4 linked regions of the Homo sapiens genome follow. The protein of the gene in region 3 purifies or fractionates together with the protein of the main gene of each other region. This does not show direct contact. Each region holds a gene or a part of one and is shown on either strand. Other genes may lie near its edges.

Region 1 (7,623 bases), on a different chromosome or scaffold from region 3:
AGGGCCCGTCTCACAAAAGAAAAAAAAAATCAGCCAGGTGTGGTGGTGCACATCTGTAGTCCCAGCTACTCACAGAGGCTGAGGCAGGAACATCGCTTGAACCAGGAGCTCAAGACTGCACTGGGCCACTGTCACACCACTGCATTTCAGCCTGGGTGAAACAGTGAGACCCTGTCTCTAAAAAAAAAAAAAATAAAGTAAAATAAATACAATCATACAGTATGTAACCCTTTGAGATTGCCCTTTTTTCCATTCAGCATAATCCCTTTGAGATTCTTCCAAATTATTACATATATCAAGAGTTCATTACTTTGTATTGCTGAGTAGCTACAGTTTGTTTAACCATTCATCTGCTGAAGGACATTTGGGTTGTTTTCAATTTCTGGCTTTTACAAATAAAGCTGCTATGAACTTTTATGTACAGGTTTTTGTGTGTACATGTTTTCATTTATCTGAGATAAATGTCTAAGAGCGTAATTGCTGGGTTGTATGGTAAGTGCACGTTCAGTTTTGTAAAAAAAAATCACTATACTCTTTGCATGACAGTTCCCAGTGGCCTTGGACTGATCAACTTCTCCCCAGTTTCTCACTTGTATTAATAGTTCTCAAGAATAACTGTAGAATGTGCTAGGAATGCAATATCCTGAGATAAGGAGGGACTGGCTGAAACAGCCCAGGCTCTGTTCCAGTCCCTCCTAGAAACAGGATGTCCTTCATCATTTTAGCCCAACATGTCATGTTGCCTCCAGAATATAAAACCCAAGATGGTCTGCTTTCCAGGGTCACTCAGCTGTGGTACAAATGGGGTACACACAAATGAGACTCCATCCTTCCGGGGCAACTTTCCTGAGTCTCGGGAGATTGGCTCACAGTGAATCCTATGCTTCGGTTTTCCCTTGTTGCCTAGCTGTAAATAATAAATTCACTTCATGTAACTTGTACACATGGGTGTTCTGTCTCACCAGACTCAGTTGGTAACCAGTGCACAGCAAACCTGCTTTGCACTCTTTTCCAGAGTGGCTGCACCGTGTTACATTTCCAGCAGCAGTGTGCAAATGTATGTAAGCAGTTTAAGTGCTTAACCAACAGTTCTTCAGAATAACTAACAAAAGCACGATGGTGCTTTTTACTTATTAATTCCTGGAGATTAATTGGTCTCCTTCTGATAAAAACATTCCAAATCTTTCAGCTCAAATCACTCTATGGTTTGGGAAGATATCAGTGGAAGAAACTCACTGCAAAGAAGTTAAGTCAAAGAAGTCCTAAGAAAAGTGTTTTAAAACAAGGCTAAAACTTTATTCTAAAGACAACTGAGAGTAGGGAAGGTAACTAAGATTTATTGAGCCTATATACCAGGCATTTTTCAGTCTTTATCTCATGTATTCCTCCCAATGACCCTGTAAAAAGGGTAATATGTCTATTTCATAAATATTACAATTGCCGAGCTTGGTGGCCCATGCCTGTAATCCTAGTACTTTGGAGGCCAAGGCAGAAATATCGCTTGAGCTCAGGAGTTCAAGATCAGCCTGGGCAAAATAATGAGACCTCATCTCTATTAAAAATTTAAAAAAACATTAGCTAGGAGTGGTGGCGCATGCCTGTTGTCCCAGCTACTCAGGAGGCTGAGGTGGGAGGATCACGTAAGGCCAGGAGGTCAAGGCTTCAGTAAGCCATGATCACATCACTGCCCTCCAGCCTGGGTGACAGAGCCAGACTCTGTACCCCACCCCACTCAAAAAAAAGTAAGAAAGAAAAGAAAAAGAAATATAAGAAATATTGCAATTGAAGCTTTACATAATGTTTCATACAGGTTATGGAATTACTAGGTGGTGAAGTGAGAGTGAGAGGCCCATACTTGTAGCTTCTGCTGCCTTCAGCTCAGGGCAAAGAAACATAGAAGGCAATCAACATGTTTGTTGAAAAAAAAAAAGAATAAATGAATGAGTGACTTAACTTCAGCTCTGCTATTTATGTGTCCCTGGGCAGGAAAATTAATTTCTTTGAGTCTATTTCTTCATTTCTTATAGCAAGATAATAATGACATCTAGTTCACAGAGCTAAGGGACAAATAAGGTGATAAACTGGGAAAACAATTTGAAAAATATTAATTAAACAAATGTTAGCTAGCATAATATTTAAAAAGTACAGTCACAGTCATAAACAAATATTGATAAATATAGGTATGAGAGGAGGGTGGGTGTATGAAGATCACTTAATATCTCTGATTCCCTGGTTTCCTCACCTGTAAGATCACAACTGAGTTTAAAGCTGAGCACCTTCATGACACAGACTCTAAGACTCACCAAGTTAGGAGACAGAGTCAAGGAAGCCTCTGCACATAACTTTAATTTGAAAATGTTTATTCTACCTCCGAGGATATTTCAAAGTATGGAGCTGATTATCTTTATCCATGACATTCTGGCCTTTATCAATTAGGTCATTCAGACCTATATCAATACATTTAATGAATTACAACATGTAAAACTTCTGTGCATGTGTACATGAGAACAGTATTAGAAACAGCTACTACTATGAGTGTTTATACATAACTTCCGAACAATTAGTGTTTGGAAAAATAGACATTAGATAGAAAATCTGGAAGAATGGGCAAGGAATTGGTATATTGTGTCTGGAGAGGAACATAGCTGGCTAGGGACAGGTAAAACAATTATTCACACTTGGCCGAGCGTGGCGGCTCACGCCTGTAATCCCAGCACTTTGGGAGGCCCAGGCAGGTGGATTGCCTGAGTTCAGGGAGACTAACCTGCGCAACATGGTGAAATCCCGTCTCTACTTTAGTATTTTCAAATACAAAAAATTAGCCAGGTGTGGTGGCGCATGCCTGTAATCCCAGCTACTCGGGATGCTGAGGCAGGAGAATCGCTTGAGCCTGGAAGGCCGGGAGGTTGCAGTGAGCTGAGATCGTGCCACTGCACTCCAGCCTGGGCAGCAGAGCGAGACTGTCTCCAATTCATATTTGTAATCCTTTGCACTTTCTTTTTGAATTTTGAAACATGTATTACTGCATTACTATTAATAGACTCACGTTTTAGAAAACTTTTATATAAAAATGTTGTCATTTTAAGCATTACCTTTATTTCAACTATTAATTTAAATTATGAAAATATGAAGCCACTTCACTTTCAATATGGTTGTAACTTTTTAACAGACTTTGTGGTCACTGGGCATATTTAACCCCTCGAATAAAGCAATCTTTCCCTTTTATCATTACTTTGTAAGACTCATTTGCTGGGTGGTGGATTAAATTGAACAGAATAAGTTATTTCTTTTTCTTTTCTTTTTTTTTTTTTTTTGAGACGCTGTCTCGCTCTGTCGCCCAGGCTGGATGGCACGATCTCGGCTCACTGCAAGCTCCGCCTCCCGGGTTCACGCCATTCTCCTGCCTCAGTCTCCAGAGCAGCTGCGACTACAGGCGCCAGCCACCAAGCCCGGCTAATTTTTTGTGTTTTTAGTAGAGACGGGGTTTCACCATGTAAGCCAGGATGGTCTTGATCTCCTGACCTCGTCATCCGCCCACCTAGGCCTTCCAAAGTGCTGGGATTACAAGCGTGATTCACCGCGCCCGGCCCCAGAATAAGTTATTTCCCAAGAGCCACCCTTAGATGCTGGTAGGTGTAATGGTCTTCCCAAGACCAGGTGCTGGATAGAAGGTCCTTGCATTTTCCTCATCTGTTGCCATCCTCAGTAAAGGAGGAATTAGGACTGCCGCAAGCCCCTAAAGACTGGAAAGATGGGACGGGCGCGATGGCTCACGCCTGTAATCCCAGCAATTTGGGAGGCCGAGGAGGGTGGATCGCCTGAGGCCAGGAATTCCAGACCAGCCTGGCCAACATGGTGAAACCCCATCTCTACTAAAAATACTAAAATTAGCCGGGCGTGGTGGCGCGCGCCTGTAATCCCAGCCACTCGGGAGGCAGAAGCAGGAGAATCGCTTGAACCCAGGAAGCAGAGGTTGCAATGAGCCGAGATCGCACCACTGCACTCCAGCCTGGGCGACAGAGTGGGGAAAAAAAAAAAAGTGAAAAGATGATGGCGCCCACTTCCGACCCCCTTAAGTAATTAAAAATAGGAATTCATTTAGGAAGTGAATTAAAACTTAAATTAGGGTGGATACAAGACGTTCCTTCTAGACTTTCTGAAATAAAAATTCCGAATAAAATCATCAAAGCCGAACTTTTCCTTTTTGCCTTTCCCTTCTTTGCTAGTGCCTGGGACCGCGTTCAGCCTCCAGCTCAACAATCCGGCACTCGCCGGCTTTTAAGTCCCACCCACGCGGCCGCGCACAGGTAACGGCAGTGCCAGTCCCACCCCACCTACGAGCTCCTCCTCCGCCTCCCACCAAGGGGCCTTGGCCCCGCCCTTGGAAGCGTGGTTGTGACGTCAGCGCGCTGTCTCCGAAGCCCGGCAGCAAATGAGCGCAGACCGCACGGGCCCTCCGCGTACCAAGGCACACGCATGCGCATTGGTTCTGGGAGCCCTGAAGACCTGGCGGAGCCCAGCGCGGATGGAGGCCTGAGGGTGGCGGGGGCGGAGCGCGCCGCGAGCTGGGGGCATGTCCGCGGCGGGCGCCGTCTAGAGGAAGGCCAAGCAGCCGCCACCACGCTGTCGGTCGCGGAGAGACGCAAGCGAGCCAGGCCGAGGGCCGCGGCGGCGATGCAGCGACGGCGTCGCCCTCCGCCGCCCACCTCCCGGCTGCCCGAGGGCTGCGGGGGAGGAGGCGGTGGCAGCGAGGAGGTGGAAGTGCAGTTTTCCGCCGGGCGTTGGGGCTCGGCCGCGGCGGTTTCGGCGGCAGCGGCGGCGGCCACGCGCAGCACCGAGGAGGAGGAGGAGAGGCTTGAGCGTGAGCACTTCTGGAAGATCATTAATGCCTTCCGCTACTACGGGTAAGGAGCCCGTGGCGGACCCCGGCCCAGACCGTCGGGGCGCCCACTGGTGGCGGCGGACCCGCCGGAACGGGGGCGCTCGCCGTCCCGCCGCCACGCCTCCGAGGCGTCGGGACCCGGCTGCTGCAGCTGACCTCCGGGCCCCGAGTCACCTCGCACCACCCCAGCCCCTCCCGGCCCTGCACACCCGCGTGTCCGCCGCGCCGTCTGCTGCACAGCCTCGTGTCTTCTGACCTCAGGATCAGATTAGCTCTCCTGCCTCCGTCCTCGTAAAGGTTTGGCTTTGAGGCCGATGGGGGTGACCAGAGAAGCGCTGTAACAATTTCAGATAGAAGACGATGGTGGTACAATCGTCCACTGCTGGGCTGATTGGTGTGTGTGGTCGATGTCCTCCAAACTGAACACACGGAGAGCCCAAGTTCACCTACGCGTGGGATGCTGTAGGACGTATTTTCCCAAACTGTTACCAGTGCTTGTAAGAGCAGTTTAAGATTTCCACCCACCCCTCTTTGGCGCTGTGAACGCACTTGCACTTTTGTGTGAGCGATTGAATGATGCTGCTCAGTGTCTTTAACTGGTGGGTGATTAAGGGCGGAAGTGGTCCGGATATTCTAAAATTTGCTAATTATTAGGAGAGATGAGAGAAGTCACAATAAGAGCTGCCTTTACGTTCTTTTTTTCTGCAAATCTGTATCTAATTCTCCCTGGTGTGCTAGGCACTGTGGTAGGACCTTTATGCTCCTCATTCATAAAAACAGCTCCCTAACTTCCACGTTTCTTCTAGATAGATGTTAAAGTAGCTTAATCACAAAATTATAATTCCAAGAGCTGAAAGGGACTTAAATCAACTGGATTTTCAGGTGAAGATAACACTTTTATTCACGTAAGAGATATGAGTCCACCGGTGACTATGTTCTGAGGCTGCAGTTGGAATCAGACAGACATGACCTCCTACGCAGGTAAACCTGTTCCCATAGGTGGGTTCCTGCTGTGCTTTATGCAAAGTTTTTTTATATTGTTCATCTTATGTATTATAGTTGTTTTTATAAATCTCTTGCTTTGCTGTGACCTCCTCAAGGGCAGGGGCTGAGTCTTTTTTATTTTTATGTCACTAGTGCTTGGCATATGTTGTTTAAGCTCTATTTTTAACAAAACAAATAGTAGCAAAGAAATACATTTCTCATTCCCAAATAGTCTGTCAAGTTTTTGACTGATAGTTAAATTAGTTTACTAGTCTGAATTTAGAAGCTTGCTTAGTGAAAGCTTAAAGTTATTTGGAATCTGATTGTATATGTGATAGGAACTTTTGAACTTCGAAGATCTTGATGAAATAATTTACTGATTAAACCCAGAAATAGGGACCAGGGACAGCATTACTTTACGGAGCCCAAAAGAGAAGTTTGGATATTTTATTTCTCCAGGTTTAGTAGTAACAGAGGGAGCAAGGCGTCAGACCATCAGAGAATTGAATTTGATGCAGGAATTGTGACGGAAAGAACCATAAAGTTAGGAAAGGCAGCTAACATCAGATAGCTAAGAGTGGGAGATACAGAAAAGTCTGGTACATTTTGCTCTTGAAAAATCTAGAAAGAATATTGGGAAATGTCTTGGGAATATGGTGGACCCATTTAGTTAAGTGCGTAGTTGTACTTACTTTTAATATATTAGGACCAATTTAAAATTGATATTTATGGGTAAGTATGGGATGGGACTTTGTTGGGGTAGGGGTTGATCAGGAACTGAAGTGTGGCAATATAGAGAAGAGATCTTGTGTGAATATTCTAGTGGTTGTGATACTATTTCCTATACTCTCTTCTTTACCAGCGTAATGTTGGATTCAGGACATTTCATTTTTTAAAAAAAACAGTTTTTATTTGTATATACTCTCTTGAAACACTTCAAATACTTGGGCTGAAAATAGTATAACATCAAAAATATGCTTTTTAAAATGTCACTTAAAGCCTAGGGGTACAGAAAGTTTATGTAGCAGAGAACAGTGGATTGTTACATTCTAATATTTTGTGATCTTCTAGACTTAAACTGTAGCCACTAATCATATCTGGATAAATTTAAGCTAAAATTAATTAGTATTTAATAAGCTTTAAAATTTAGTTGCTCAGTTTCACTACCCATATTTCAGGTGCTCAATAGCTACATGTGGCTAGAGTCTGCTGTACTGGACAGTGCAAATAAAAGCTTTTCCATTATCGAAGTAGGTTGTGATGGACAATCCGGTTCTACACATTTAGCAAGTACAGTTGACCCTTAAACAATATGGATCTGAACTGCACGGGTCCACTTATACACAAATTTTTTGAAATAAACATATTGGAAAATTGTTTTGACATTTGCAACAATTTGAAAAACTTAGCAAACTTGCATAGCCTAGAAATAGTGAAAAAATTAAGAAAAAATTATGCCATGAATGCATATGTGTAGATACTAGTTTATCATTTACTACCATAAAATATACACAAATCTATTATAAAAAGTTAAAATTTATCAAAACTTACACAAACACAGATCTTACATGGAGCTATTTGCAATTGAGATAAATGTAAACAAGCAAAGATGTAGCATTAAATCTTAGTTGCATAAAATTATCTGTAGTAGATACTGTACTACTGTAATAATTTTGTAGCCACTTCCTGTTGCTTTTGCAGTAAGCTCAGATGTTACCAGTATCTTCTTAAAATAATCACTCTGCTTTTGTCTGTCA
Region 2 (7,672 bases), on a different chromosome or scaffold from region 3:
ACTGTCCAGTGGACACGTGACCCATGTGACCTTACCTATCATTGGAGATGGCTCACACTCCTTACCCTGCCCCTTTGTCTTGTATCCAATAAATATCAGCGCAGCCTGGCATTCAGGGCCACTACCGGTTTCCACGTCTTGGTGGTAGTGGTCCCCCGGGCCCAGCTGTCTTTTCTTTCATCTCTCTGTCTTGTGTCTTTATTTCTACAATCTCTCATCTCCGCACACAGGGAGAAAAACCTACCGACCCTGTGGGGCTGGACCCTACAGGAGGCTGAGGCAGGAGAATCACTTGGACCCAGGAGGCAGAGGCTGCAACGAGCCAAAATTGTGCCATTGCACTCCAGCCTGGGGAACAAGAGCGAACGCTGTCTCAAAAAAAAAAAAAAAATACAAAAAAACTCCAACTCACAGCCAGCCCACAGGAAGGGTCCCAGCCAGCTAAGCCCAGAGCCAAAGCAGCAAGAACAAACAACACAGTAATCCCCACTGACCAAGCACCACTGCATGCCTGACACTGTGCACATGACCAAACCTGATTCCAATCCTGTCACAGGTCAGGCTACAGAGGCAAAGTGGGGCTGACCCATCTCCTGACCAACTCTATGTCATTGCCTTACCACGAGCCCTGAGAACAGTCTAAACAGGCCCTGATGGGGCCAAGGGAAGAAGAGCACCTTGACTTCCCCTAAGGACAGGCCCTCAAATCCCAGGACAGAAAAACTCAATGCTGTACAGTCCAGGTGGCAGCAGGGCTAGAAGTCAAAGCAGAGATGGGGATCCCAGTGCTCCTCCTGCTAGTCTGGTTACCTGGAATAAATGTGCCTCAGCTTTCTAATGTATCTCATTAGGCTTATTCTAAGGACTAAAAGAAGAACAGGCCTTGAGCAGGGCTTGGCCTACAGTAAACACCATGGAACTGTTTTTAACGTTAAAGGCCAACTCTTCCCAAACTAACATATAAGCCTATTGCAACTTCATTTCAAGTCTGGGACAAAATCAGGATAAAGGCAATTTGGATGAGTAAATGAATAGACACAGGTAAGAGATGTTTTAAAAAGAAAGGCAACAAAGGTATATAAGGACTTTCTATCTATTACAAAGTCAGCGTAGTAAAAGAAAATGATGTATCAGTAAGAGTTATCACAGAAACAAAACCTATTTATGTAGGAATTCACGTCATTGAAACAATGTGATTACAAGTCACTAGGGAAAAAAGTCCTATTGCATAAATTCATAGGAGGGAATTTCCCATTTTACAAGGCTGAGGATTTCTGTAGAGAAACACTCCCAGGATGCAAAATAGTCTTGTGTAGCCAAATCAGTTCAATACCCAGGCAGTCCAACTGCTATGCTCCTCCTACTCACCAGCCTGAACCTGAAGCTCTCCTGCAATAGCCCCGAGGAAGTTCACAGCAGATATCAGCTCCCCACCCACCACTCTGCCCACCTACAGCCCCTTGGCATAGGCTGGGCCTTCCACCTGGAATGTCCATCCCATCCTGTACTGAGACTTCAAAGCCCACCTTCCTCCTCCCTCAAGGCAACACAGAGCCCTAGAGAACCACTTGCTTCTCTTATCAGAGAGCCTGTCACCCTACACTGGCAAGGCTAGCTGATCCCCTAGACCAATAGCAGGACGACTCTGACATAGGGCAGAGTTTGCCAGCCCTTTTCTTGTGAGCCCCTGGATTTTCACCTGCTTCATCAAAACCCTAGACCAGGCTGGGCCAGGATCCCAAGGGTGATCCAGGGTGGCCATACCATCAGGCTGGGGCAGCATACTCCTACCTGGCAGGAGGAAAAGTGGGCCACCATAATCACCCGTCCAGTGCCCATCCTCAGCCTGCAGCCCCACGTAAAATGTCATCCCGTTCAGAGCCCCCTCAAAGGCGGTGTGGGCTTTGGGCAAGTCCTTAAAGTAATTCTTCTGCAAAGAGATCGAAAAAAAAAAAAAGAGATAGCTGACGGGACTGTTGCCCGGCCAGAGGAACCCTCTTCACATACAGCCCAAGTCAAAACAGTGAATGTAAATTACTTTAAAAGTTTCAGCTGTTTCCATCAAAAGTCTGAAACTCTTTGATGAGAGCATCACACCTCAGCAAAGTAAAAGAACAGCTGCACATTTTCGTTGCTTTATTTGCCAGTCATGTATTCTTCACAACTTCTCCAAGATGTCTGGAATAAACCAGGCACCCAGACTGTAGGGTGGGGCACGGGTGCCGACCTGGGCCTGGGACTCGGGCCTCTCAAAGAGGGCCCAAGGGGCGGCACAGCCTTTCCCTCGGTGGCCGGGGCTCGGCAGGAGACCCTGTTTACACTGCAGACTCTGACGACCAAAATCTCTTACAATGCACACAACTAAGACAGTGGATCCAAACACTTTTTGTGAATAAAAACAAAGTTACAACTATCTTTGCAACTCTCCTATAAGTCAAAAATTATCTCAAAATAAGGTGCTAAAAAATAAAACATTAGGAGTCTCCTATGCGTGGTTTAGAGATGAAGGGGCTGAAGCGGAGGGGCCCGCGAACGCAGTTCCCGTGGGCGCTCGCCTTGGGGATGGGCGTCGCTGGCCGGGTCCTCCCACCCGCCTTTCTGAGAGAAAACGTGCTCCTCACGGCTCACCCCTCAGGGTCCCGAGCTCGCTGACGCTCCGCGGAAGCAACTTACGGTGTCCAGCCCCAGGGCGTAGGCTTCCAGGCCGGTCTGCTCGCGGCCGGCGCGCTCGTCCTGCAGGTAGGTCCACGTCTGCCGGCCCCTCTCGCAGTTGAGTCGCCAGCGGCCGAGGTCGGTGGCGGGCTCGGTCTTGTAGGGGCCCCCTCGGCGCCGCAGACACCTGAGGACCACCGGCCATCAGCGACCCAGGCCCCGCCCCAACGCCGGCCGCCGGCCCACTGCCCCAGTCGCGCTCTCCTCAGCACCTAGGACCACCCCGCATTCGTCAGGAGCCCGGGGCGAGGGGACTCACGTGCCCTCCGTCATTGCTGCTGCAGTGCTCTACGCCGCCCACTGCCAGCTGCCAGATGTCCGCACCCGGGACCTGCCGCCCAGCCCCGCCCCTCCCGCCCCTCCCGCCCCTCCCGCCCCTCCCGCGCGCACTACGCAGGCGCAGGCCTCGGCAGGCGCTCAGGCTTAGGTGGGCCGACGCCCACGCAACCAATCAGAGCGCCGCGAGCGTGACCCCGGGGTGTGCCAGGCGACCACAGTGGTGGAGCGCTTGGTGCCCCATGCGGCGTGGGGCGGGGCCTGAGGGAGCGGGGATGGTGGGTGAAGGCGACGGGACGGGGGAGGCGGGTGGGGCCTTATTGGCGGGGCATGAGGGGCGGGGCTGGTGGGTGGGGAGGTGGGGGCGGGGCTGGTGGGTGGGGAGGTGGGGGCGGGGCCTGGTGGGTGCGGGTGGGGGCGGGGCTGGTGGGTGGGGCCGAAGGGCGGGGGCGGGGCCTCTCGCGCGCCCTCTAGAGGCTTGCGTCCCGGGAGCCCGGCCTCGTGCGCCGCGCTTTGAGGTGAGCCTCTCTGAGAAATTTGTGAGGAGGGTCCAGCCGCGGGTCGGAAGGAAGGACGTGGGGAGCGAGGCTCGAGCGAGCGACAGCGAGTGCGAAGGTCGGGTGGCAGGGAATTGCTCTCGCGCTGCAGGATTTGCCCGGACGCCGGGGCCGGGGGTGGGGGCGGGAGGCCGCCCTGAGGTGAGGTGGGCGCGGGCCGTCGGCTCCAGTGCGAGACCAGGGGGAGGGCGGGGCGGAGCGGAGGAGCCGAGGGCGCCGCCGGCGTCCCTGGGAAGCTGAGCGCCGCGTAGCTTCGCCGGGGGGAGTGGGGTAGGCGCGGTGAGGCCGTGGGCCCCCACACCTGGCGGACCACAGGGGCCAGAAGCCCTGGAGCCCCGCCAGGGAAGGGCTGCGTCGCTGGCCAGGACCGAGCGCGGTAGAGCCTCAGCTGCTCACGGGGTCGCTGGAGTTGGGGGTGGCCCCAGGAGAAATTAAAGGTGAAAAGCCTTAGCAGCAGAGGGAAGAGGAAGATGGAGGCAGAGCGAGTGACCGAACTTGGAAGGGACAGCCGGGCGCAACAGGGCAGGGGGCGTCTGACTGTTGGAAACATGGCTGACGTCTGGAGGCTGCAGCCAGTGGTCCGTAAGTCAGGTCAAGGACCCACAGAAGACCCCAGCATGTCTTCACCTGGCCCACAGAAGCCCTGACATCCAGTTACAACTGCCCCAGCCTAGTGAGCATTTCGGCACCCACTCCTCAATTCCTACCCCCAGCCTAACTTCGAAGGGGCGGTGAGCCACAGCAAGCCGGAGGAGAAAGTTGGAAGAGAGAGTGGACAAAAGAATACCCACAGGCACCTTCCCCACAGTGGAATAGCGGGGTTTTAGACAATCAAGGATAATCACCTCTTCCTATCCCAGTTCAGAAACGGATGAAAAAGACACAGCAATAAGATGGGTGGGTATCAAAATATCAGCTTTGCCACAAATTAAAAACCTAGCTTGAAGGACAAGGCTTAAATCTGCAAGCAAGAGGGCAAGCTACTAAATCACCCGTTAAGTCAGACAAACATATCCCCCAGCCTCTAGGCCATGAAACTGCCTCACCAAGCACTATGCAATTGAGTGCCCACCAGAAGACACCCCTCCAGTCAACCCACAGACCCCAGAAAGAGTACCCAGAGGAGCCTGAGCACACTCCACCCTATCTGTTCTCTGAAATTCAATCAAATGAGTCACTCTACTTCTCTGGAAGCAGAAAGAGGCTGGAAGTTTTTCTCCAGGTAAGTTCCTCCATGTAGAAACATGAAGAATAGGGATAAGGGGCTTCAGCCTGGATGGAATCTCACACTGAACCTGGCAAAGCTAGGTGAGGGAAGAGGTTTCAACTGGATAAGAGTTTGAGTTTTGATATCTTAATGGACTGGACTTTTTATGAGTAAAATAATCCGCTCTTTTTAATGTCTGAAAGAAAAGAAAAAGCTGTAAACTACGTCTGAGAATTGACACAGTTAAGCTTCTAGGGGCAGTCATGAGAAAAAACACTGTTCCTATCTGCTTACATACTACTGCATCCAGCTTATTCATTAAGCCAGATACAGAAGGCTCTGAGGATTTTGGCCTCAACAACTGGGTATATGGTGGTGGTCATTTACTAAAATAGAGGTGTCTTTTATTTATTTAGTGACAGGATCTCAGTCTGTCACCCAGGTGGGAATGCAGTGGCACAATCATTAGCTCACTGCAGCCTCAAATTCCAGGGCTAAGTGATCTTCCGGGCTCAGCCTCCTGAATAGCTGGGACTACAGGCGTGTGCCACCACACCTGGCTGATTTTTTTAAAGTTTGGTAGAGACACGGGGTCTCGCTATGTTGCCCAGGATGGTCTCAAACTCCTGGCCACAAGGAATCCTCCCACTTCAGCCTCCCAAAGTGTTGGGATTATAGGCATGAGCCACCACACCTGGCCTAAAATAGGGAAAGTTTGATTGGAAAATTCAGATTAAAGTGGGGACAAGTTATACTAGAGATGCTTATTAGACATTCAAGTGAAATATTGAGTAGGCTGGCATTCAGGAGAGAACATAATGCTAGAGATAGGAATTTGGGAGTCATTTGCTTTCAGGTAGTATTTGAAATCATGAGATTGGACAAGATGAATTAGGAAATGCACATAAAAAAGAGAAGTTCTAGAATGAGCCCTGGGGCACCGACCTTTTCCAGTATAGAGGAATGGCCAGAGAGAGGAGGAAAACCAGAGGAATATGAAGTCATAATATAAGTGAAGACATGGTGATCTTTGCTGAGGCTTTGAAGGGATTGCAAAATGAAGACAGAATTTATTATTGGATGCAACAAAACAATGTATTGGTGACTGACAAGAGCTATCTAAAGAGACATGGGGGGAAAAGCCTAATGGCAGAATTTTGAAAGAAATTTTCAGTTAAACATGGCAGACTGAGCATAAACATTAACCTCCATTTCCTGCCCAAACCCTACTCACATAAAGTAATAAAAGACCAAAAAAACCCCACAAAGAATGGGAGAGGAGACACTAGTAAGCAAGAGAAGTCAACAAAATTATAGAGACTGGGAATGGATGGAGAAGTGATAACTGAGTTAGCTAGAGAAAGTTGAGACTTACGTTTGTGGGTGAAGCCAACAAGAGACCATTCCTGCCAGCAAATACCAGGAAGGTGCAGAAATTGGAATAACTGGTGGAAAATTTTTGTGAGGAACAGTATGACCATAGATCCCCTCTCCTACTTGGGTGGAGGAAGTCTCCAGTAGTTGAATCAGAGTAGGTGTTACCTCAGGCATGAGGCATAGCTGAGGACCACTGAAAGCAGACAGATTGAGTTAAAGTCTACACATGTGGGTCCAGGCTCACTTCTCCCACTTAGCCAGATAGCATGAGATAGTGGGAGGATCCCTCTGGAGCAGCTGGCCCACAAGAGTCCTGCAAACACTGGCAACTATGACCTAGTAGAAAAACAAACCTATTAGCTGGCAGACTGTACCCATTGACAGTTTCCAACAAGCACCATCATCAGCATGAGCCAGACATTTGGGGAAAACAGTGCAACATTACCTCCAGCCATGCAAGTGATCCATCTTGGACCACTGACCCAGTCAAGCCTTCAGATGACTATAACCTCAGCCAATACCTGACTGCAGCTGCATGAGAGATCCCAACAGAAAGCTGCCCAGCTGAATCCTCCTCAAATTTAAGCTACTATATTTGGGGTAATTTGTTCAATAGCAACAAAAAAACTAGAAAAAAGGACTACAAAGTGCCCAGCACAATAAATTGGGCAGGGGTTGGGGAGGGAATGGGGAGGCAACATATGAAGTAATGTCATTGAGAAATTTGAGAACACCAGGAATAGAGATGATCTCAAAAATTTCCAGCAACAAAAAAAGCAAAAACACAAAGGAACGATTTCCAATCTAAAATTCTATTCTCATTCAAATGATGAATCAAACGTAAGGATAGATAAGTCCAAAAAACAAAAAAAAACCATTTCTTTACTCTCACAACATCCTTTTGGCACCAGATGTAGAGAATTTCTCCCCACCGACAAGCAAGCATTCAGCTGTACAGCAGACACCAGCTGGGTATCCGCTTCAATCCTGCACCGTCTACCTGGAGATAGCAGCAGATCACACAAGTTGAGGACTCTGTGCCGCAAGACTGAGCCCCATGTCCAGTGTCAATCACAAGCCCCAGGTTGTTTTACCTGTCCTTCTGGGTTCCCAAGACCCCTTCCTTGGCTTTAATTTACAAGAGCAGTTCACAGAACTCAGGGAAACACATGTTTATTACAAGGCTATTTTAAAGGCTACAAATAGCCAGATGAAAAGATACACAGGATGAAGCCTAGAAGAGTCCCAAGAGCAGGAGCTTCTGTCTGCAAGGAGTTGCGAAGTGCCATTCTCTCAGCATGTGGACGTGTTCTTGTCCACCTTCCTGGAAGCCCCCACACATTTGGCTATCCACAAGCTCTCTGAACCCTGTCCTTTTGGGTTTTTAGGAGCCCTCATTACATAGGCATGATTGATTAAATCATTGGCCACTGGCGATCAACGTCACTTTCAGTCCCTCTCCCCCAACCTCTGGGAGTTTGGGGGGTGGGCTGAAAGTTTCAACCCCTCTAATCATGCCCTGGTCTTTCAGATGTCCAGTCCC
Region 3 (7,883 bases):
GCCAGGATGGTCTGGATCTCCTGACCTCGTGATCCACCTGTCTCGGCCTCCCAAAGTGCTGGGATTACAGGCGTTAGCCACCGCACCCGGCCACACTTTTGTATTCTTGGTGTGAGAGTAAAACTGGCACAATCTTCTCCCGAAGTACAATTTAGCAATATCCAAACAAAATTCTACATTGATGAGCTCATGTACCTAAAAATTCCTCTTCTAAAGGGCTGCCCGATACTTCAGGGAACATTGACATATGGACATATGACACATACAAGGGTTCTCACTACAATGCTGCTGGAATTAGAAAAAACAAAAGCAGGACATAATGTTAACAATTGCCCATGGGATGGAAGATTAAAATTAACTGTGGTTCACGCCATGTGTTTCACCCATGCACTAAATATTATGATGCTGTTAAAAAGAATGAGATACTTGCATGTACTGATAGAAAACATCCAATGCGATTTGTTCTTCAGTCAGAATTTTAAAAGTTAAGGTGCCTATAAATGCACAGGAAGAAGGCTGAGGGATGGTGGGATGAGAGGGTCCTGTGGGATGGCAGAAGGCCTTGGTGTCTGCTACGGGTCCTTTGTCCCTGCCAGGGCTCACGTTGAAATCTGAACCGTAATGTAGCTGGTGGGGCCTGTTGGGGTTTGGGGTGGATCCCTCATGAAAGGCTTGGTGCCATAACCGCCCCCTCCCACATTCCCCCAGGAGTTGTCAATCTTAGTTCCCCATGACACCTGGTTGTTAGAATGAACCTGGCCCCTCCCCGTCTCCCTTCCGGATCTCATCCCCCTCCTCCTGCCATCCTCCCCACCCCTTCCCCTGATGGGCAGAATCCAGCTGTCCTTCCCCTTCACCACCAGTGGAAGTTTCCTGAGGCCTCACCAGAGGCAGATGCTGGTGGCATGCTTCTTGTACAGCCTGCAGAACCATGTGCCAAATAAGCCTCTTTTAAAATTATCCAGCGTCAAGTTTTCTTTTTTATTTTTTTTCTTTTCCGAAACGGAGTCTCCCTCTGTCGCCCAGGCTGGAGTGCAGTGGCGTGGTCTCGGCTCACTGGAAGCTCCGCCTCCCAGGTTCACGCCATTCTCCCGCCTCAGCCTCCCGAGTAGCTGGGACTACAGGCGGCCACCACCACGCCTGGCTAATTTTTTGTATTTTTAATAGAGACGGGGTTTCACCGTGTTGGCCAGGATCGTCTCGATCTCCTGACCTCGTGATCCGCCCGCCTCGGCCTCCCAGAGTGCTGGGATTACAGGCGTGAGCCACCGCGCCTGGCCTCAAGTATTCTTTTATAGCCACACCAACGGACTGTGACATTTCCAAAACCACCAAATTCAGATGTTTCACCTTGTCTATACAGGTGAGCCCTACATCCACCTGGAATCGCACTAGCCTGTCAAAAAGAAAGCCATTTAATAAGCGTATTAAAAATAAGAGTCAAACGTGGGTTCCACCTAACATAAACTGACGTTTAAAACATAAATTCTGTAATTATTTGGAGATTTCAAAATGCTATTGGATTCCTGGATTTTGTTTAGTTTGTTAAACAAAAACACGTAAAATTTCCTGACACTTGTAAGACTGGTTTATCCTTCAGGTACTTAGCTTTCGTTTTGTTTTTCCTTAACATAGAAGGAATCTGGATGAGAACAATTGGTAGAGCCTTAATGAACTTGAAAGAGAACTGAAGGCATTGGCATTTTTCCAGACTGAGTGATTGCTTTCACAGGAAACGCTGCCTCCTGAAGGAAGGGCGTGCCCCGCTCCTGGCTGCCTGCCTCGTGGTGGTCAATTCGCTGCCCTGTACCTGTTGATGCGCAAGAAAGTGGCTGGAAGGAAACTGCTGCCGGTGTGCTCAGTGGACTCGAAACGGAAGACAACGAGCAGAGGAGAGAAAGTTACTTTTTCCTGCCGGGCTGCGTGTTTAACCAATTTGTCTAAGAAAAGAAGGATGGAGGGCCGGGCGCGGTGGCTCACGCCTGTAATCCCAGCACTTTGGGAGGCCGAGGCGGGCGGATTTGGCTAACACAGTGAAACCCCGTGACTACTAAAAATACAAAAAATTAGCCGGGCGTGGTGGCAGGAGCCTGTACTCCCAGCTACTCGGGAGGCTGAGGCAGGAGAATCGCTTGAACCAGGAAGGCGGAGCTTGCAGTGAGCCGAGATCGCGCCACTACACTCCAGCCTGGGCGACAGAGAGAGACTCCGTTTCAAAAAAAAAAAAAAAAAAAAAAAGAAGAGAAGAAAAGAAGGACGGGGGTGGGGAGGGAATCAGGGAGTGGGGAGAATGGCGCTCCCCTTCACGCAGCTGGTGTGGCTGGGAGTTGGCTTGGAAGTTTACACACTTGAGCTCTATCGATTCCGAAACTTCCCGATACATCGTGAGGTGTGGGCAGGAGGGAGACGCGCCAGGCAGCAGCCAACGGGGTGGAGTCCCCGGGCCCAGCCTCCTGCGGGAGGGGGCTCTGCTGCCTCCAGGCCCGGGTCGCTCCTGCCTGGCCCCGGGGACCCCGTTCTTCCTCCGACTCCGACGACGGGCTCCTCCTGCCCGGACATGCCCCGCCACAAGTGACCCGGGCCAGGCACCCCCGCCGCGTCCCCCTCTCTCTCTGCCCCCTCCCGGTGCCAGGCGCGCTTTTCCCCAGGCAGGACCGCGGTGGGGACTCACCTGCAGCAGGACCCCGACGACGACAAACTTGAAGGTCTTGTGGACCCGGAGCCGAGGGCTGGCTTCCCGCGCCGGCCTGGGTCCTGGGGCGCGCCCTGCCCGGGCCCGGGCACTGGGTCCGTGCTGTCCCATGGAGGTAGGGAGCGCTCCTCGGCCCCCGCCTCGTGGTTCAATCCTCCCCGCGGAAGAGCCCCACACTTTGCTGGGTGTGGCCGCGGCTGCCTCTGTCCCACTCGCTGCGCTCCCGGGATTCGGAGTCACTGCCAGGAACGCACCTAGATGTACTCTAGCTGGTGGTGGCGCCATCCTGCCAGGTCAATCCAAGAAGCAGCGTGCTTGGCTATGACAAGACAGAACTTCGCATTCGGAGTTCAGGGCACCCCTGACCCCGCCCCCTTTTCGGGGCACCTGCGGCTCCTGTTGGCTAACCCTGAACTTCCTTCCTCTGTGACCGCCCTTGCCGCTCTCAGCTTCTGTTCCTCAACCACGGCCGCCGCGTGGATGCCGCTGCATTCGGAGTCGTTTTGCCACTTGGTCCCAGCGCCAGGCTTCTCGGTCGGGAGTTGACCTCAGCCTTTCTGTGACCCAGTTCCTGGCACCCAGCAGGCGCTCGGTGGACGGATGGGTGGCGGAATGAAGGACACAGAGGCCACTGCGGGGTCTGGCCTCTAAGAGGCTTTTACGGCCTCCTCCGTCACTACCGGGCGAGTGATTCAGCCTGCCTTTTTTTTTTTTTTTTTTTTTTGAGATGGAGTCAAGCTCTGTCGCCCAGGCTGGAGTGCAGTGGCACGATCTCGGCTCACTGCAACCTCCGCCTCCCAGGTTCAAGCGATTTTCCTGCCTCAGCCTCCTGAGTAACTGGGATTACAGGTGCCCGCCACCACGTCCGGCTAATTTTTTTTCTATTTTTAGTAGAGACGGGGGTTTCACTGTTTTGGCCAGGCTGGTCTCGAGCTCCTGATCTCGTGATCCGCCCGCTTCGGCCTTACAAAGTGCTGGGATTACAAGCGTGAGCCACCGTGCCCGGCTCATCCTGCTTTTGGTTTCAGGTCTCCATGCCAGTGAAATGTCACCTCAACTCCACCGTCCCTGGTGTCAGGCAAGCCCGAGGGACCCAATTCTGCCTTTCTTCTGGATTTTCCTAACCTGTTAAGAGTCTTGAAAGTCCTTAAACCACGGGAGACTATCTGGCACATGACACGGGATGAGACTTGGTGGGGGTCCCACGGGGGACAGGTCCTTCCAGCGGTTCCTCTGCACCCAGCGCTGCACGGGCATGGGGCGTGGGTAATCAGCCTCCCGAAAGCCACGCGAGTCACGGTCCTGCCTGCGAAGAACTCCCAGGGCGACCTTGGGGCTGAGGAGTGGGTAAGAGAAAGGGGGCGCTGATTGATGTTCATTTTTCTCCATATTTTAATGGTGTTCCGGTACCATTTGTTGAAAAGACTCTTTTCGACCGGGCGCGGTGGCTCACGCCTGTAATCCCAGCACTTTGGGAGGCCGAGGCGGGCGGATCACCTGAGGTCAGGAGTTCGAGACCAGCCTGACCGACATGGAGAAACGCAGCCTCTACTAAAAATACAAAATTAGCGGGGCGTGGTGGCGGATGCCTGTAATCCCAGCCACTCGGGAGACTGAGGCAGGAGAATCGCTTGAACCCGGGAGGCAGAGGCTGCGGGGAGCCGAGATGGAGCCATTGCGCTCCAGCCTGGGCCACAAGAGGGAAACTCCGTCTCAAAAAAAAAAAAAAAAAAGACTTTTTTTCCTTATCCAATAGCCTTATCACTTTTGTTGAAATTAAATTGACCATATATATGTATGTGTCCATTTCCGGACTCTATTCTGTTCCGTTTATTTATTTGGCTATTCTCATGCTAATTACCACATTGTCCTAATTATGAGCTGTATAGTCAGTCTTGAAATCAGGCAGTTCAAGTCCTCCCCCTACTACCCACCTCCCAAATGGTTTGCATTTCCGTATATATTAAATATAGAATAATTTTTTTCAGTTAAAAAAGCCTACTGGAATTTTAATTGGGATTGCATTGAATGTAGAGATGAATGAGAATAATTGACATTTTAACAATTTTGAGTCTTTCAATCCATGAAATTTATTTATTTAGATATTTGTTACTTAAGCTTGACAATATTTTGCAAACTTTCCATGTACAAATCTTTCATATCTTTTGTAAACATATTTCTAACTATTTTTGTTACTATTGCTAATGGAATTGATTTAGCTTCCCTTATTTTCAAATTGTTTGTTGCAACTATACAGAAATACAGTTGATTTTTGTCCATCGGCCTTGTATGCTATGGTACTGCTAAATTGATATATTTCTAGTTGTTATTTTATAGATTATTTAGGATTTTCTATGTAAGCAATCCTATTGTCAGTAACCAAAAACTGTCTCAGTTCTTCCTTTCCAATCTTTATACCTTCTATTCATCTTTGTTGCTGAATTGCCCTGGATAGGATTTCCAGTACAATGTTAAATAGAAATAGTTAAAGCAGACATGCTTATCTTATTCCATATCTTAGAACACATCTAATTAATCACCATTAGATATGATGTTAGTTATAGTTTCCTCATAGATGCCTGCTGTAGTTTGAATGTCCTCTCCAAAACTCATGTTGAATTTTTTTTTTTTTTTTTTTTTTTTTGAGACAGAGTCTCACTCTTTCGCCCAGGCTGGAGTGCAGTGGCCTGATCTCGGCTCATTGCAACCTCCACCTCCTGGGTTCAAGCAATTCTTCTGCCCCAGCCTCCCCAGTAGCTGGGACTACAGGCACATGCTGCCGTGCCTGGCTAATTTTTGTATTTTCAGTAGAAACGGGGTTTCACCGTGTTGCCCAGGCTGGTCACAAACTCCTGAGCTCAGGCAACCTGCCTGCCTTGGCGTCCCAAGGTGCTGGGATTATAGGCTTGAGACACCATGCCCGCCAATTTTTTTTTTTTAGATGAGTCTCGCTGTGTTGCCCAAGCTAGACTGCAGTGGTGCGATCTCGGCTCACTGCAACCTCTGTCTCTGGGTTCAAGCGATTTTCCTGCCTCAGCCTCCCCAGTAGCTGTCAGTACAGGCACGCACCACCACCACACCCAGCTAATTTTTGTATTTGTAGTAGAGACGGGATTTCACCATGTTGACCAGGGAGGTGGGGCCTTTAAGAGGTGATTTAGCTTATGAGGGCTCCATCTTCATGAATGGATTAACGCTATTGTCTCAGGACTGGGTTAATTTTCATGTGAGTGGGTTCCTGATAAAAAATAATGAGTTTGGCATGATTTCCTCCCTCTCTCTCACCTAGGCCTGCTTCGGCCTTCTGCTCTTCTGTTGTGTGGTGACCCTCACCAGAGGACAGCTTCATGCTCTTGGACTTCCCAGCCTCAAGAACTGTAAGAAATAAATTTCTTTATAAGTTGCCCAGTCTGTGGTATTTGGTTATAGCAGCAGGAAATGGAGTGAGACAATGCCCTTTACCAGATCAAATTCCCTTTCATTTCTACTTTGCTGTTTTTACCATTAATAGAATGTGAAATATAACAATAAACAATAACGTTTGACACTTTGAAACGTATCAAATGTTATTTTTTGGCGTCTATTGAGATGATTATATTGTTTTTCTCTTTTATGCTATTCAAATGTTTAATCAAATTGACTTTCAAATGTTGCATCTAACTTGAATTCCTGGGTCAAATTTCACTTGTCATGATGTATTATCTTTTTTACATATTGCTAGGTTTGATTTGCTAATACTTTCTTAAGCATATTTTTGTGTCTGTATTCATGAGAGATATTGATTTATCATTGTCTTTTTCTGTAATGTCTTTCTAAGTTTGGGTATACTCATTATTCTGGCTTTATAAAATAAACTCAGTTTCCTGAGAGTCTTATAAGATTAGCATTATTTCTTCTTTCAATGTTTGATACCATTCACCAGTAACACCATCTGGACTTGGTGATAATTTTTGTTGTTTTTCTTTTGGGGTATGTATGTGTCTGAAGGTTTTTGATAATAAATTCAAATCCTATAATAGATATGAGTTTTTCAGATTTTCTATTATTTTATATGTCTCTTTTGGCAAGTAAAAATTTTCAAGTCATTTGTCTCTTTTATCTGAGTTCTTAAATATATTGGCATAAAGTTGCTCACAATATTCCCTTATTATCCTTAGCAATCATAGTGATGTCCTCTCTTTTATTTTGATAACTTAGTTTTGTCTCTCTCTCTTTGATGAGTTTCGCTAATGATTTATTATTCTTTTCAAATAGCCATAATGTCTGTGTTAACTTTATTACTTTCAGGGTTTTTCTGTTTTCTATTCTATAGATTTTCTCTCATTATTGCCTTTCTTATACTTATTCTGGGTTTATATTGCTCTTTTTTTTTTTCTAGTTTTTTTGAGACAGAGTCTCACTCTGTCGCCCAGGCTGGAGTGCAGTGGCGTGATCTTGGCTCACTGCAACCTCTGCCTCCCAGGTTCAAGCGATTCTCCTGCCTCAGCCTCCCGAGTAGCTAGGACTACAGGCGCCTGCCACCACGCCTGGCTAATTTTTTTTTTTTTTTTTTTTTTTGGTATTTTTAGTAGAGACAGGGTTTCACCACGTTAGCCAAGATGGTCTCAATCTCCCGACCTTATGATCCGCCCGCCTCAGCCTCCCAAAGTGCTGGGATTACAGGAGTGAGCCATTGTTCCCAGCCTGCTCTTCTTTCTTTAGCTTTTAAGTGGAAACCTAGATCATTGATTTCTATCCTTTTTTGTTTACTAATACGAGCACTCATACTCTCTATGTCCTTCTGTAGTTATGTCCTACAAATTTTGATATTTTGCATCATCATTTAGTTTGAAATATTTTCTGATTTCTACAGGCTTTCTCCTCTGACCCATGGTGGTTTAAACTGCAAATATGAAAGTCTTTTTTGTATTTCTTATTGACTTCTAATTCAATTTCACTGCAACTAAAGAAAGTGTTCTGTATGATTTCAATCCTTTTAAATTTATTAAGACTCTTCGTAGGCCCAGAATAGGGTCTACCTTAGTAAACATACTATGTGCACTCAAAAAGAATGAACATTCTACAGTTGTTGGGTATAGTATTCTATGAATGTTTATTAGGTCAAGGTGGTTGATAATTTTTTCAGATTGTCTGTGACTTCATTGATTTTTCTTTTTTTGTTTTTTTGACAGTCTTGCTCTGTTGCCCAGGC
Region 4 (7,019 bases), on a different chromosome or scaffold from region 3:
TCTGATAGGCTCCTGGGGCCATGAACCAAAAGAAGAAAACTCACCTTCTCCTTGCTTATCTTGCCTCGGCCCATGTAATCCTTCATGAGGAAAATTAATGAGGACACATCAGATTTATCCAAATCCTCACCAATCTCTGCCATCAGCACTCTGCAAACCAGACAAGTTCATTTAGTTAATTCAGACATCAGTCCTAAGACAACTCCAAGTGCCCACGCCTCCCCTATGCAACAATGGATTAAAAGACTAGTTCTTGCCCCTGTGTAAATATGTCCCTCCCTCATAAAACAGCAAGCCTAGATCACCCCAGGAAGAGATCTTAAGGGACCTCAGAAAAGGGAACTTGTCCTTGCCCGTTTAATAGGAGATGGTACATCCTTTGCCAACTAACAGTTTCTGAAAACAACTCAGAGAATGGAAACTTCCTTAAAGAATCCCCTAGCTCCCCCAGAGGTTACAGTGAAATGACTTAAGAACCCAAATGACTAACATAAAAGACAGAAATAGAATTTGAAGTAGCCTTCTCTGTTTAACAAGCTCTCAGGTGATGTTGATTCAAGGACCATATTTTGAATTGCAAGATGCTAAAGGAAAGAAATACCTGAGATACCCTGGCCCACCTCTGAACTCAAAGGGTACAGGCATCTGGATCACAAGGATTCTGAACTTAGATGTCTTTGCCTAGAAAGCCTCTCCTGACTCACTGGTGGCTGGAGCTAACACTATATATATATATATATATATATATTTTTCCCCCCCTAGGAAATAGACTTTGAGAACCAACAACCACACTTTTCTGGGGCTCCTAAGGACACCCTGTGGTTAGTATTGTTACCATGACATTGTCATCAAGGCCATTTTCCCAGTTAGGCTCTCAGATTCTTGAGGATGGCAGACTTTTCATTTTGTCCTAGAGCTTACCAAAACACTTAGCACCAATACACAATGAAGCCCACTCACCAGATGAATAAATAAATCTAGCACTCCTCTTCAACTGCCCCCGCAACCCTTCCCAGAGGGCCTGAAGAATCTCCACTCATCATAGCAAGGAAATGGGAAATGGAGAGATTGCCCTATTCACTGAAACTCAGTTGGTGCCTCCCGGAAAGTCTGAAGATTACTGACATTAAAACTGATGGCTGAATAGGTGGAAGATTAAAAAAATAATAATAATAACAATGATAATAATCCCTTCTATCTGTAGAGTGCTTCACAGTTTAAAAAGTACTTCACATAGTAAATTATTACAACTGATGCTCACAACAACCTTGTAAAGTCAGGTATTATTATTTTTCGCTTTACAAGTAGGAAAACAGAGGCCCAACAAGGTTAGTGATTGGCCCAGCCTGCCTGGCCCATAATTGGTAGATCTGAGGCTTGAAACAGGTCTTCCAGCTACAATGAGCTATGATCATGCCACTGCACTCCAGCCTGGATGACAGAGCAAGACCCTGTCTCAAAAACAAACAAACAAACAAAAAAACAAAAACCAAAAAAACAGGCTTTCCAAGTTCAAATCTCATATACTTTCCAAAGCCCACACTGCTTTCAGCTCTCTTTAGTATAGTTCTTGATAATAATTATCATCTCCAAATACACATTATCAACATAATAAAAGGCTGGTGGTCGAGAGAAAAAACACCGGCTGGGCATGGTGGCTCACACCTATAATCCCAGCACTTTAAGAGGCCAAGGAGGGCAGATCACTTGAGGCTAAGAGTTCAAGACCAGCCTGGCCAACATGGCAAAACCCTGTTTCTAGTAAAAATACAATAATTAGCCAGACATAGTGGTGCGTGCCTGTAATCCCAGCTACTCAGGAGGCTAAGGCAGGAGAATCACTTGAACCCAGAAGCAGAGGTTACAGTGAGCCAAGATCGCACCACTGCACTCCAGCCTGGGCTGCAGAGCGAGACTTTGTCTCAAAAAAAAAAAGAAAACACCAACTTAAGGTTACAAGTTATCTTCCTTTCCCCAGGAAGTCAGTCTCTCAGTAGCTTCCATGCCCCTCTGAACCTCTAAAGACATTAACATGTGAACAGGAGGAAGGAGCAACCCAAAGCTTGTGGGAACTAAAGCAGACTCCAGTGGCCATTTCCTCTTTGGACTGAAGGGACTTAAATGTGGTTAACTGAAGAGATTTTCAATGTGGGCTCTCCAATGTCTCCAAGCGCAGGAAGTGCAGGAAGGGAGCCCACCCTGATAAACTTCCTCAGCAGGGTAGGGCCAACAGGGATTCAGAAGGGATGATGGAGTCTCTACAAAGGTAGGAAGATTACTGTCAGACTTGTTATTTCCTTTCTTTGTACCACAAATTATCAAGGACTGACTTCACAGAAAATGAACTAGTAAACACTGCTGCAGATCTCACACTGTCAGAGGCTGGCAAGAATGACTAGCTCTTAGTCATTCCTATCTTTCTTCACGTCTTGTCATTCTATCCTTCAGGCAAACACATACCAGCTGCCCTTCTACCTGCATATGATCCCAATTCCTTTGAGAAAGCATGTTTCAGCTGGAGGCAATGGCTCATGCCTGTTATCCCAGCATTTTGGGAAGCCAAGGCAGGTGGATCACTTGAGGTCAGGAGTTCAAGACCAGCCTGGCCAACATGGTGAAACCCCGTCTCCACTAAAAATACAAAAAAAAATTAGCCAGGCATGGTGGCGCACGCCTGTAGTCCCAAGTACTTGGGAGGCTGAGGCAGGAGAATCGCTTGAACCCAGAAGGCGGAGGTTGCAGTGAGCCAAGATCACGCCACTGCACTCCAGCCTGGGCAACAGGGTGAGACTCTGTCTCAAAAAAAAAAAAAAAAAAAAAAAAAAGAAAGAAAGAAAAAGAAAGCAAGAAAACAAGTTTCAAGAATTTAAAGGGCTCACAGGAATGAAGTGACATCATCTGGCAGTTGGATAAGTGGGCAGAGACAGTAAAGTGGCTGCACTTCTTATTATCCTCGTTTCTGCCATTCAGTAGAGTCTGAGACACTTCACTCCCTCCCACCCACCCAGCCTCAGGAAGAGTTGATGAATTACCTATAGTCCGAAACAAGGTGAGGGTTCCTGAGCAGGTGGGTCTCCACAGCTTTTCTGTCCATCTTCAAGATACGTTTGAGCAGGTCAAATCGCCTCACTCTGTAGAGCAGTTCAGCCAAGTCCCCGACAGACAGCTTACCTCTTTCCCGTAAAATATCCAGAAGGTCCCTGACATTAGGTGGAACCACATCTATAGCAACATCCCGGCACAAAAAGAGCAGCATCTCCTTCTCATCTGTATCAAGTGCTTCTTCAACCTGATGGATGACTTCAGCAGACATCCTACTCTTAGACTAGGGAAGCTCACAAGGGTCTTGCAGTACAGCTCCGGGCCAGTCAACAGAAAGCCAGCAGGCAGTCAACTTCATTTCTGAGGGCTGACTTCATTTCTTTCAGAATCCTTTCCAGTGGGGGAGTTCTGTGGTTAAAAGGGAATTTTTCTGAAAATCTTATCAAGCTAACTTATGCCTAAGATTGAAAGTATGGGCTCTTTCCTTCTGGGTGGTCTCCCTGACTTAAGTAGATTAAGTTCTATAGAAAGGGATCTATAGAAGTCTAAAGAAAGGGATCCTTGGTAGACAGAACCAAAAACAGACTAATCCAAAAAGACAGAGAAGAAAACCTACATTGTAAAGGAAATGAAACAACAGATGAACTCATCTGCAAGGAAACCCCACATTCTTTTTCAGAATTCATCAGAATGTAAAGCATGTTCAGGGAAAATTACAACTAAGGGTTTAATGGCCTCAGTAGGAGGAATAGGGAAGAAGTACGTAGTAGAAGGAAGTGGGAAAAGCCCAACGACAGACAGCCTGACTAAATCAGGGAAACTTATGTCACAGAGTTAAACCTCCACCTCAATGACTCCACCCACGTGGCCTTGAACAAACAATGGAGAAAAGAAGTTTCTGTCCCTGTGCCACTCCTTTTTTCTAGTTGCTCTCCTACTTCAAAAGCCCCTCACTCACACCTGAGGGCAGAAACCTCTGCTGCCATCCTCCTAGACCCCAAGCCCTTTTCACAACATCATGAATGCTCACAGAACCTGCCACCAAGTTGTCAGGTTTGGATCACGTCTTCAGACCCTGAGCCCCATGGAGGTGCCAGAGGCCCTGACTCTCAATGCACTGCTACATGGCAGCAATTGCCATTAGTGCTTCTGATGTTCTCAGTGGAACATCTGGAAGTTACAGAGGATCTGGGGAAAGATCTCACTCCTGGGAGGGGGCTGGGTAGGAGGGGTAAGGAGCTCATGCAATGGGTGTGTTCTTAATTTCTTCCATTGAAACTCATCCTATTTTCTTTCAAAATTTAAGTTGCTAACCTATCTACTCTAAGTTTCACAGCTAAAACTTATGTTAAATCACCTCTTGTGTTCTTTATCTGTTCCTACAAGACAATATTTCAGGTTAAAATCAAATTTATTAACAAAAAATAAGTGGAAACACAACCCAACTCTAAATTGCCAATGGTTGCTTTGTATTTGTGTTCAAGTATATTTATATATTTATCTAGCTGTATTTAGTGAAAGAAGCACTGAATCCATTTATTTATATACATACAGTATCAGTCCACAAAAGATTTGAGCTATCTTAAAATAAAAACACATAAATAGAAAAATTTTATATGAAAACAAGAGGAAAAATTAGGTTAGAAATTTGAAATGGGCTTGCCCATTCATCCCAACTTCACTTAAATATGATTATTTGTAAATAACTGGAGAAATTAAATTTGCTAAGTTAAATTTACTAAAATTAAATGTGCTCAATGAAAGTGGAAAAATTGGCACTCAGACTATTTTACTTTTTTTTATCAGAAAGATAAATACAAATTTTATGTGTTCTGGACAGCCCAAATCTATACTCCACTCGCAGGCCAACAGTGCTTTAATCTCATCATCAGCTTCCATGAAAAGGAGGCCAAGTTCTTTTCTACTGTATTAATGAATAGTCACAATTTTGTCAACAGTTGTTATTATAAATTAAAGTATAAAATATATGCAGTAGAAGGAATTATAAAAACACAAAAATAAAATCATTAAACACAAGACTAAGAAATGAGATATTATACAAATTCACTGACATATTTGAAAAAGAACCAAACAGAACTACTAGAAATGAAATGCTTAATTCTCTATTTTTTTACAGTCATCTAACTTTTGTAATTCATAAGTATCAACAATATAACAATGCCACCAAGAGTTAACAAAATGAGATAATCATTTTAAAAAACATTATCTGCTCAGTTTGTTTCTTCCAACCATCACACCCATGACTGCTTTCTGCCAGTCACGCACACTCAGCAAGAGCACTGGCATACTGTCTTCCCTCTGTGCTAACGGGGGTAGAGTTTGGCAGCAAAATCTAGATTACTCAGTGGTAGCATCTGGCACATTGAAAGAAAATATCAAAAGGAAACTACAGATCCCGTGTGGAGCCAGCCCACTCAGATGCAACAAAATAGCAGCGTGTGTGTATGCTGGAGGCAGTTCACTGTGGCTAGAGGTGGTGAGTACTTGAGAAAGGAGAGCATACTAGGGAGAGGTAGGGCTGGGGTCCGAATAATCACCACTTTGTTGGGGTTTAAGCCCAAGCCAAGAAATTAACATAAAAATTACTCTTAGACTAGGGAAGCTCATAAGGTCTTCAGTTTTTTGTAGGGAAAGGGTCCCACTGTGTTTCTCAGGCTGGTCTCAAACTCCTGGGCTCAAGTGATTCTCCTACCTCAGCCTTCCGAAATGCTGAGATTACAGGTGTAAGCCACCACACCCAGATGAATGAGTTCTTTAGAGCCCAGTAAAAGACTTGTGCCCATCAGTTACCAACTCCACCCTGCCTGAGCTGCTGGACTCAGTGTCCCATTCGCCTCTTCTGAAGAGTCACTTGCTTTCACCTTACTCAGATGAAGGGGCAAAGGAATATCCAAGTCCAATTATTTTTCTTCCCTGCTTTCAAATACCCAATCCTCCTGACTGATCAAGATACCATTAGCTTCATTTCTCCCCCCAAGTGTTTTCAGCAGTTTACTTTTCCCTAGCCAGACAAAATTGGCACCTGTGTGTGTTTTCTAGAATTTTAAAGGAATTCCCCTTAACTCCCCTCACAGGCATATTCTAATTTAATGACTATATCTCCCCTTCTTTTCCACACCCACACCCTGGTACAAACTGTCCCTGACCTTCACAAGAGCAACTAAAACTTGAGACCAATTTCTGTTTCATTTCTCTTGCAGAAGTCAAGAGACTATCGCCAATTATTATTCAAAACATCAACAAAGCTTAGGCAAGTCAGAGTTATCTTTCACACACTAGCTAACAGGAGCATCCGGTTCTGGAAACAGAAATATTCCAGGCATTTTTTGTAGAAATTACACTTAATACTGGAACTAACAAAACTGCTGAGAGGACTGGAGGAAGGAGCTCTGGGGTGGGATTCTAACAAAGACTCCTGGGGCTGCTGCAACAACCTTGCCTCAGCCAGGGAAGTGAGGATCAGGAGGCTGCCACTAGAACTGAGCTCAAAGACCCTCTGACAGTGGAGACCCAGTGATCATGTAATGCCCAACCTTGTTTTTACTAACGCTGTTTTTAGACTCTCCCTTTCCTTTAATCACTTAGCCTTGTTTTCACCTGAATTGACTCTCCCTTAGCTAAGAGAGCCAGACAGACTCCATCTTGGCTGTTTCACTGGCAGCCCTTCCGCAAGGACTTAACTTGTGCAAGCTGACTCCCAGCACATCCAAGAATGCAATTAACTGATAAGATACTGTGGCCAGCAATATCCGCAGTTCTCAGGAATTCGTCAGATTGATAACGCCCAAAGCCCCGCGTCTATCACCTTGTAATAGTCTTAAAGCCCCTGCACCTGGAACTGTTTACTTTCCTGTAACCATTTATCCTTTTAACTTTTTTGCCTACTTTACTTCTGTAAAATTGTTTTAACTAGACCCCCCCCTCCCCTTTCTAAACCAAAGTATAAAAGAAAATCT

What was found.
Region 1: the proteins of TNFRSF10A (region 3) and CARNMT1 purify together in Homo sapiens (affinity purification with mass spectrometry; 2 studies listed by BioGRID and IntAct, with this or other methods). This does not show direct contact.
Region 2: the proteins of TNFRSF10A (region 3) and LSS purify together in Homo sapiens (affinity purification with mass spectrometry; 2 studies listed by BioGRID and IntAct, with this or other methods). This does not show direct contact.
Region 4: the proteins of TNFRSF10A (region 3) and CFLAR purify together in Homo sapiens (affinity purification with western blotting; 5 studies listed by BioGRID and IntAct, with this or other methods). This does not show direct contact.

The regions. Positions count from the first base shown.
Region 1 is NC_000009.12:75,025,293-75,032,915, reverse strand, and holds the start of CARNMT1 (carnosine N-methyltransferase), read left to right. Parts: upstream 1-4,622; 5' UTR 4,623-4,674; coding exon 4,675-4,904; intron 4,905-5,764; exon of another isoform or gene 5,765-5,863; intron 5,864-7,623.
Region 2 is NC_000021.9:46,225,761-46,233,432, forward strand, and holds the start of LSS (lanosterol synthase), read right to left. Parts: upstream 3,015-7,672; 5' UTR 2,986-3,014; coding exon 2,972-2,985; exon of another isoform or gene 2,840-2,971; coding exon 2,674-2,839; intron 1,931-2,673; coding exon 1,792-1,930; intron 1-1,791. UniProt on the Homo sapiens protein: Key enzyme in the cholesterol biosynthesis pathway. Catalyzes the cyclization of (S)-2,3 oxidosqualene to lanosterol, a reaction that forms the sterol nucleus.
Region 3 is NC_000008.11:23,222,085-23,229,967, forward strand, and holds the start of TNFRSF10A (tumor necrosis factor receptor superfamily member 10A), read right to left. Parts: upstream 3,019-7,883; 5' UTR 2,978-3,018; coding exon 2,672-2,977; intron 1-2,671. UniProt on the Homo sapiens protein: Receptor for the cytotoxic ligand TNFSF10/TRAIL. The adapter molecule FADD recruits caspase-8 to the activated receptor.
Region 4 is NC_000002.12:201,126,160-201,133,178, reverse strand, and holds part of CFLAR (CASP8 and FADD-like apoptosis regulator), read right to left. Parts: exon of another isoform or gene 3,659-7,019; intron 3,451-3,658; 5' UTR 3,314-3,450; coding exon 3,033-3,313; intron 399-3,032; exon of another isoform or gene 151-398; coding exon 45-150; intron 1-44. UniProt on the Homo sapiens protein: Apoptosis regulator protein which may function as a crucial link between cell survival and cell death pathways in mammalian cells. Acts as an inhibitor of TNFRSF6 mediated apoptosis.